2 linked regions of the Homo sapiens genome follow. The protein of the gene in region 1 purifies or fractionates together with the protein of each later gene. This does not show direct contact. Each region holds a gene or a part of one and is shown on either strand. Other genes may lie near its edges.

Evidence for each region. Proteins that work in one complex are often made in the same cells at the same time.
Region 2: the proteins of ATF7IP (region 1) and GTF2E1 purify together in Homo sapiens (affinity purification with western blotting; 2 studies listed by BioGRID, with this or other methods). This does not show direct contact.

The regions. Positions count from the first base shown.
Region 1 is NC_000012.12:14,361,733-14,368,681, forward strand, and holds the start of ATF7IP (activating transcription factor 7-interacting protein 1), read left to right. Parts: upstream 1-3,949; 5' UTR 3,950-4,095; exon of another isoform or gene 4,096-5,458; intron 5,459-6,949. UniProt on the Homo sapiens protein: Recruiter that couples transcriptional factors to general transcription apparatus and thereby modulates transcription regulation and chromatin formation. Can both act as an activator or a repressor depending on the context.
Region 2 is NC_000003.12:120,780,726-120,783,592, reverse strand, and holds the end of GTF2E1 (general transcription factor IIE subunit 1), read right to left. Parts: intron 2,551-2,867; coding exon 2,123-2,550; 3' UTR 524-2,122; downstream 1-523.

The DNA.
Region 1 (6,949 bases):
TACAGGCGTGGGACTAATTTTATATTTTTAGTAGATATGGGGTTTCAACATGTTGGTCAGGCTGGTCTCGAACTCCTGACCTCAGGTGGTTCACCTACCTCGGCCTCCCAAAGTGCTGGGATTACAGGTGTGAGCCACCGCGCCCGGCCTATGCTGTTTTTAAAAAGTTCTGTTTTCTTTGTTCAGTTGCTACAACTGAAATGTATTGGTTTATATTTATTATTTTAGTTTAGGTCTTTTTTTTTTTTCTTTTTTTGTGAGACAGGTTCTATGATCCTACTTTACTCTAGCACTTTTTCCTAGGAAAATTATATTTAGCCTGTATCATTTTAGCCTAAATATACCAATAAAAACATAATGGTAGATAAAATATGAAAATCCTTTTGTACTAACTGGTAAGTAGCTGCCCCATCCTACCACACCCTTCATACCACCAAGTCAGGCTCAGTCCCCAGCTGAAGAGCCTCTGGACCTCTTCAAGATCCTACAACTAAAGAATTAACACCTGACAAAATAGGGTGGGGGGAGGGAAGTCTTCAAGCCTGCTTCCATTCTGATTGGTCAGTGATATAGGGATTGATAAATATTTTAAATGTGGTCCTACCTAGAAGTCTTAAGTTCAGCTTTTTTCATTCTTCATTGTTTTTGTATTTTCTGTTATTTTCTAACTTGAATACTTTCTTTTGTACCTAGTCTGACAGCCTAGGTACAAAGTTCTACATCATAAGTCAGGTCAAGTATCACTTCCTCTGTGAAGTTTTCCCATATAGTATGAGGAAGATTTAGGTTCTCTCATTTTAGAATTTTTTTATGCTTAAGACATACCACCAAAATATTAATGATCTCATAATGTTTATCTGTATTTACAACTCTTTCCCCATGAGAAACAGTGTCATTTCCTTTGGGCATCCCCAGTGCCCAGAATAGTTTGTGAGACATTATAAATATTGTATTCATTGAACAAATCAATGAATAGTTGATTAGGTCAACCAGCGGGTTTGCATGGCTGAAGAGACTGTAACTGTGGTTGAGGATATCTGAGGAGATTCGAATCCAATAAAATTGTCTAGTTGGAGTCTTCAGGAGGCAAGTCTAGAATATGAGCATATCTAAGAAAACTGATAAATCTGTGGTTATGCTGAATTATTTTTCCATTTGCTATTAGCATGGATAATCAAGAATAGACTATCATAGGCCAAGCATGGTGGCTCATGCCTGTAATCCCAGCACTTTGGGAGGCTGACGTGGGCAGATTACCTGAGGCCAGGAGTTCGAGACCAGCCTGGCCAATATAGCAAAACCCCATCTCTACTGAAAATACAAAAAATTAGCCGGCCGTGGTAGAGTGTGCCTGTAGTCCCAGCTACTCAGGAAGCTGAGGCAGGAAAATCGCTGAACCTGGGAGGCAGAGGTTGCAGTGAGCTGAGATCGTGCTACTGCACTCCAGCCTGGGCAACAGGGCAAGACTGTCTTAAAAAAAAAAAAAAAAAAAGAAAGAAGGCCAGATGTGGTGGCTCACGCCTTTAATCCCAGCACTTTGGGAGGCCGAGGCGGGTGGATCATGAGGTCAGGAGTTTGAGACCAGCCTGGCCAAGATGGTGAAATCCTGTCTCTACTAAAAACACAAAAATTAGCTGGGCGCGGTGGTGGACGCCTGTAATTTCAGCTACTCAGGAGGCTGAGGCAGGAGAATTGCTTGAACCCGGGATGTGGTGGTTGCAGTGAGCTGAGATCACGCCACTGCATTGTAGCCTGGGCAACAGAGCAAGACTCTGTCTCAAAAAAAAAAAAAAGAATAGACTATTATAAAAATGATTCTTTTTTATATGCTTACAGAAGACATAAAAAGAGAAACATAATGGGCTCTAGTATTCCAATCCAATTTCTCTTATTATTATGGAGTGTAACATTTAATATCAATATTTCTAATTTTCTGAGCATCTACTTATAATTGAGCACTGATGTACTATGAAAATTATAATAAATAAATTATAATTGAGCATCTATAATTTATTGAGTATATGCTAAGGACTGTGCTAATGATGTTACAACATTTAGCGATTAAACAATGCAAATTTAATTGTGTTATATCCCGACTTAAAACCTTTTAAATGATTCCTCATTGCTGTCCCAATGAGGTCCAACTTTTAGGCAAAAAATTAATTAAATCATTTATCATGATAGAGATGACCTCTTCTAGGAAGGCTTTTCTAATTCTCTAGGTCTGGATTAGGTGATATTTCTTTTTTTTTTCTTCGAGATGGAGTCTCACTCTGTTGCCCAGGCTGGAGTGCAGTGGCGTGATCTTGGCTCACTGCAACCTCTGCCTCCCGGGTTCAAGTGATTCTCCTGCTTCAGCCTCCCGAGTAGCTAGGACTACAGGCGCGTGCCACCACGACTAGCTAATTTTTTTTTTTTTGTATTTTTAGTAGAGGCGGGGTTTCACCATGTTACCCAGGATGGTCTCGATCTCCTGACCTCATGGTCTGCCCGCCTCGGCCTCCCAAAGTGCTGGGATTACAGGCGTGAGCCACTGCACCCGGCCCTAGGTGATATTTCTAAAGGCCACCTTATATTTTAAGTAAATTGAATGGTTCCAGTTATAAAAATAAGTATTAACAACCCTATTCTAATTTCTTATTAGTTACAAAAATTTCTTGTTCAGTTTTCTGTCTTCTTCACTAGAGTACAGATTTCTTGAGGACAGGCACCTAACAGATCTACAACACAGTGATTGCTAAATAAATACTGAACCAATACATTCATATAATGAGAAGTTACATAAAAAAACAATAACCACACGGTACCATCTAATATTATTTTCAGGCTATTCTTGCCTTGCAAAACATATGTACTTTTATTCTTTTTTTTTTTTTTTTTTTTTGATAAGGGGTCTTGCTCTGTAGCCCAGGCTGGAGTGCAGTGGTGAGATCTTCGCTCACTGCAATCTCGGCCTCCCAGGTCCCAGTTCAAGCAACTCTCCTGCCTCAGCCTCCTGAGTAGTTGGGATTACAGGCACGCACCACCATGCCTAGCTAATTTTTGTAATTTTAGTAGAGACGGGGTTTCACTATGTTGGCCAGGCTGGTCTTGATCTCCTGACCTCAGGTGATCCACCCCCCCTCAGACTTCCAAAGTGCTGGGATTACAGGCCTGAGCCACGGCACCTGGCCAAAACATATGTACATTTATTCTATCATTTAGTGCTTCCAACCTAGTTCAACTATAGTCATGATTGCCATTATACAGGTGAGAAAACTGAGTAACACACTTATTCCGAGGAACCGGCAAGGAAGCTGCAGTAGTTGAACTTGAACCCAGATCTCTTAACCAGTAAGGCAGTGACTTGTCCACTACCTCCTGTGGAATTCATTAAAGGCCGACTCCCAGCATGAAATTGAATAAATGGGATGAATACAACTTCTGGTGAGAGAGTATGATAAAAAGTGCTTGCTCTGTTACCAAGCAACTGAAAGAAAGTATGTTTTTTTCATTCCTTCATTATTAATACAATTCAAAGTACATTCTGTGAATTTAAAACATAAATGATGAATAAATCAACATACTCCTGGCTTTTATGAAAATCTTTCCCTCTGCTCTTTAAACTCTCACCTACCTCCTTCCTTCTTTCTTTTCTAAGCCTCATAGAGGGCGCTCACAAAGTGCTACTTATTGATTGAGGAAGATCCACTCAAAAAACACACCTCACACTGCAACTGAGAGACGCAGCGCCACCACCTCGGGCTTCCTTCTCTTTTCCACGCAGGAGGCGGGGCCAATGTCCCTCATTCAAATAAAAAACCAGAATTTGCATGGGGAATGGCTAGTCCTTGAGCTTATTGGCTGATAGCACAGTGGGCGGGGTACATAGCACGACCCCCCGGAGCCCCGCCCATATTAATTTGCATAACGGCCCCGGCGCGTGCAAGGGAGAAGCGGGTTTGTTTTTGAATCTGCGGAGGCGGCGGCGGTGGCAGCGGCGGCGCGGCGACTGAAGCGCGCGAAAAGCTGAGGCGGCAACGTCGGGGACGGCTGCGCGGGACGGCTCTGTAGGAAGGAACTTGGTTCCCCCTCCCTCAGCTTCCGCCCCAAAAGGTATATGTGAATCCCAGGGGCTGTTAAAACCACATTTTCTTAAATTACTATTGTATTTCTGAAGAGTCAAGACCGCATTATGGCGGCTGCGGGAGTTGTGTCTGCGCCTGCGCGGTTGCGGAGCTGCGGGCGGCGCTGCATGGGAGCACGTGATCTTGCGGGGTCGGGCTCTAGCTGCAGTTGTGCAGCTGGCGGGGCGGTGGCTGCGCAAGCGCAATATTCATTTTCAAGATCTAATGTTCTTGTTGGACGCCATTTGGGTTCTAGATTTAATTTTCCTCGTTCTTGAGGGGTTTCTTTGTGTTAACCTTAAATTCTCACAATTTTCAAGAAAAACATTACTCTAATGTTGTACTCCTGGGCCGACCTCAAGCTCTTCTCTGTTTTTTCGATTTTTTGAAAAATTGTGGACTTAATTTTCTGTAAAAATGATTTTCATTTGTGGTTCTTGATTATAATTTCAGTTTTAAAGTATTACTGGATTCAGGTTTATATTTACGGTGGTAAAGATCAGCACCTAGTGGTGTTCTCACGGGAAGTGCATTTATTTGAACTGCATATTTGCAAATACATTTTTAACCCTATTTTTACCTGTTCTGTTATGGATGTGTGGAATGTTTACAAAACAGAAACAATTTTAGTTTTGGGAATATTGGGGGAACGGGAATAGTGGAAGAAATTACAGTATAATCGAAAATGAAATCTCAATCTGAGGATTATTTTGGTTTTAAATGTTTGATCCTAAGTAAATAAAGTTTTAATTTTAATCAGTTTGTATGTTTCTGGGCATTTGAATTTTACATGTTTTAAGTTTCTTAGGTGACTTGTTCATTACTGCTTCAGCTAGATTATTGTTACTTTTGAAATTAATCAACTCATTTTCTTAGCATTTTTGTTTGCTATGATATGTAAGCTATAACATTTATTTGGTAAATTTTTCTGATGAAGAATTCTAGAAAGAACATCCATTACCCTGAGGCCTCTTTGAAGAAAGTGGACCATTAATAAAAAAAATCTGTTTTTTTCTTTTAAACACTGTACTGTATGCATGTGTGTAAGATACAGTTGTGTTTGATTTTTTAATTGTAAGTGTGCTCCTGGTTTTATTAATAGTTTTTTAGGGAAGGTAATTATAAATATGCTACTGATTAGTTTAAAATGGTAGTGTCAACTATAGTTAAATCTTATGTAACACAATTGGGGGAAGTTATATAAGATTTGATATGATTCTCCCGTTGTGCAAATTCTTTCTTACTAAGCAAAGAAACTTGCAAATGTTTTCCATAGACTTCATTTGTGGTTCATATATACAACAACTGGTTTCTTGGTTGGTTATAACTCTTTAAGTTTGAATCAGTCTACTGTCAAATGAAGACGTGCCTCTTGCTTTATAATCTCGGTTAATTTAGGGAAATTTTTATTGCCTAAAACAAATACCATTAGTAAATATTACCTAGATGTAATTGAAAGTAATACTTTTGGTTGGTGGATTTTTAAATGACGTCACATATGAGATAGAATGGAGGTAGGAAAGATTCTTCTTTTTTTCTCAAGAGAATATTTGACCTGATGTAATTCTTGGATCTCTGAGGTCTTCTACACAGAAGTATATTTAGAGAGCAGTTGTGTAATTTTCTCCCTTTTATGTTTCTGGAGTGGTTACCTAGCAGCCCCTTTCTACCACATGCTATTTCAGGCATTTTCGAGTTGAACATACACATAAATATTTCGGTTAACAAAAGAACTTTGATCTTTGATCTTAGGGCATGGTACACTTTACATTTCCAGAAAAATGAAATAGTTTGGTGTATATAAGCGTATGTTTTCATTTGAATATACAGATGATTGCTTTTTAGGTTAATATTGAAGGTAGTAAGAGGTATTTGAAAATGCTCTTGAATATGAAGAACATATTTATTGATGGGACGATTTTGCTGTCATGTTTCTTACAAGGCAGATATAATCATGTAAACTTAATAAGATTAATTAATTGCCTGAACACCAACTATTTGTTTATTAGTACTTTGTCAATAACAAGTATATTTTAAAATTTTAGTTTGGTGGTTATGATGCCACAAAATTTTGACACATATCCAACATATATAAATATTAAGACTAGGTTACTCCAGGAATGAATACCAAGTTACTGAAGTTATTTAAAATCTTTGTAGTTTTGTAAATTTAAAAATTTATATGTAGTTTAGAAAAGACAGGTTTGAGTTATTAAACAATTAGAACTATTTTTTCTTTAAATTAGGTTTTGCATATGTGATAAATGTATTTAAATATTTTTAAACTTATTCATTATAGAACATTTGGAAAATATTGAAAATTAATTAACAATGCTTAGAAATAACCACTCTAAAGGTATTGGTGATTTGTGACTTCACTTTTCCATGATTGAGCAATCTATAAATGTTTATTAATTAGTTTTTCATTGGTACCATAATTTCATTTCTACTCTTTTAATGTTATGAGTATTTTCCCATTTCATTATTCTTCTAAAATATGTCTTTAAATGGTTGCATGATACTTTATTATAATATCCCACATGATCAAATGTTCTTTTTAAACACATTTTAAAATGGTTACATATTATTGTTATCTCTAAGAAGAATTTACTGTGATTTATTAAACCTTTCATTTTTTGTTTCCTGTTTTGCTTTTTGCTCATTTCTCTATTAAAAATAATGCTACAGTGAACGTTCTTGTACTATACCTCAGAATATTTCTTTGAAATTACTTTCAAAGGACTTTTAAAGTAATTTGCAAAATTGATAAAAACTTTTTTTTGAAAAGCATTTTTTATCATATTCAATACCACCATCAATTAGATGGGTGAAAAATAGTAGCT
Region 2 (2,867 bases), on another chromosome or scaffold:
CCTGGCTCAAACAATCTTCCTGCCTTGGCCTCCTGAGTACTTAGGACTAAATACAGATTTAGTGAGTATATCTATCTTTCTATTCTATTTCAAATACTGCTGCAATGAATACCTTTATTCTTACCTCCATATTCACTTGTGACATTTTCCCATAACACGAATTCTACATATACATGAACACACTTACAAAAAATAGTTTAAAAAATTAACTACATTTTAAAAATTAACATCTGATTACCATTTTATTTAAATTAACTTCTAGAACTATAAAAGTTTAAAAAACAATGTTTAAAAGCTGAAGAGCATTGCTTCTTGGTCTTTTGGCTAAGATCAAGTGTAAAAGTTGAATACTTTACGTATACAAGGTACAAAGGCATCTTATTGCACAAAAAGTTTAGATCCCATATGCATCTATCATTTGAAATATGACTAATAAAAAAGTCTTTAACATTTTTTTAATGGGAAGAATATTCATTTTAATATGCCCCAAGATGTTACAGAACTTAAAATGAACAAACTTCAGTCAGTATAAAACAGATTTATTGTCAACATTCAGTCATTAACACAACCCAGGTAAATGAAACATCACTCCATACAAGGCTCATATATTCTTTACATGTGTACTATAAAATGATAAATACTTAAAAATTACAATGCAAGGAAAAATATTGTAAGATATACAATTGTTACAGACCCTTGTGTGAAAGTTCTTTATTTTTAAAGTTCTGCCTTAGGGAAAATACCATGCTACATATCAGAACCCAAAATAAACTGTTTCCTGAGGTTACAATGCTCAATGGTATACTGGATGCACCCTAAAATACTGTGTCTGACAAAAATTAAAAGAGAGACAGCCTTCAATGATGTTTAGAAAGAGGGAGAGTGACAGAGAGAGAGAAGAGTAATCAATTATTCTGTTGATTTCTGCTGGAATGGCCTCATTAAACAATTTATAGCACTGACAAGAGGTCTGTACCCAAAGGGAACAAAACCAGGACCAGTCTCAGCTTTACATAAAGGATTTCCAAATCAGACTAACTGACACAGTTCTAAGGCACTGTTACCAATGCTTGTCACTCTTCAACCCTTCACAGAGACTTCTTGTCTTACGTCCATGTTTTTCTAATTTCTTCCTAAGGGTTTACCAATTATACTTCTGTTTTCTATCATCCTAAATCCAAACCAAAAGACATTAAGCAATACAATAAAATCTACCAGTCTGGTCAGTTCTAAAGACACAAATTCTGGTTTAGACATTAATCATAAGACTCAAGTATATCTCTCCCCCTTCCACACACGCTCCCACCTCCCCTTACATATTGATCCATCTCAATTTTGAGGAAATGCTCAAATTCTAAGCAAAATTTCAGGATTTTTTCCCCCAATCAGTGATTTGACTGTTGGCAAGCTGCTTTGGTGGGCAGCAGTATAAGAAATTGTTTGGAATGCCTGGCTAGAACAGATAAAATGGATGTGATCAGTGAATTATTGTAACCTATTGTAGTAAACAGATGGATGGGAAGGATTTACCTTATGAACTTCCCTCACTCATTTCAGAAGGGAGAAAATTATGTCTTAATAAGGCAAGAAAAAAATCAGATAAGAAAATACAGCACTTTGGGAGGCCGAGGCGGGTGGATCATGAGGTCAGGAGATCGAGATCATCCTGGCTAACATGGTGAAACCCTGCCTCTACTAAAAATACAAAAATTAGCCAGGCATGGTGGCAGGCACCTGTAATCCCAGCTACTCGGGAGGCTGAGGCAGGAGAATCGCTTGAACCCAGGAGGCAGAGGTTGCAGTGAGCCGAGATCACGCCATTGCACTCCAGCCTGGGGTACAAGAGTGAGACTTCATCTCCAAAAAAAAAAAAAAAAGAAAAGAAAATACAGTAAAATATTAATACTGTAGTGACAGCAAGGAAGGGTAGGATTCTCAGCACCCTACCTTGCTGGGAAAGTTTCTGGCATAAAAGTCAAACTCTCTACCATCAATCTTTGCACAAGGATGGACAGTTGCTTACATCAAGAGGGGCAGAAAGCCACTTAAATACTTTTCTTCAAAGATGAGACATTCCTTTTTGAACTGAGCATTAGAGAAAGGAGAAAGAATTAGGGAAAGCTCACTCAAAGAGGTCCTCAAACATGCGTTGTCCCATTGCTATATATGCTTCCTTTTCTTCTGGTGTCATCTGGGCCACTAGCTCTGGCCGTTGGCTCACTTCACTGTAGGAGAACGGACGGCCAGCCACCATGACAATGGGGTCATCTGCTACTTCTTCAAACTCGTCATCTTCCTCTTCATCCTCTTCTCGTTTATGCACAGCCACAGCTGCCGGACGGGGTGGAGAATCATCATCTGACTCACTGGTCTCGCTTTCTGAGTCACTGCCATTGGCAGCGGTCACTGGAGCAGCTGCCCCCACTGAACCAGCCATGGCAGAGGAAGTCTTTTTCTCGTGAATGAGCAGTGCTCGCATGACCTCTTCGTTGTCATCAGGCCCAGCATGGCCTTCCTCACGCTCCTGAAATGCGTCCATATCTATGCCCCCTGGGGAGTAAAACTCAGAAAGTCAATATCCTTAAATATAAATGGCATTTCTTTATAGCATATAGACAATATTTTAACATATATTTAAATAATACGATAAAATAACAGACTTCACTGGTTCCATTTTTGAGCTGCTATCCATAAAATATTCAAAATATTTCTTACAAACTGGAGCTTAAGTAGCATAATGGTCAAGTACATTGGCTTTAAGAGTATTATAGCATAGATTTGAATCCTGGTTCTTCTACACACAAGCATCTTGGGCAAGTTATTTAATCTCTAAACTTCAATACCTTTTTCTGTAAAATGAGGTGATA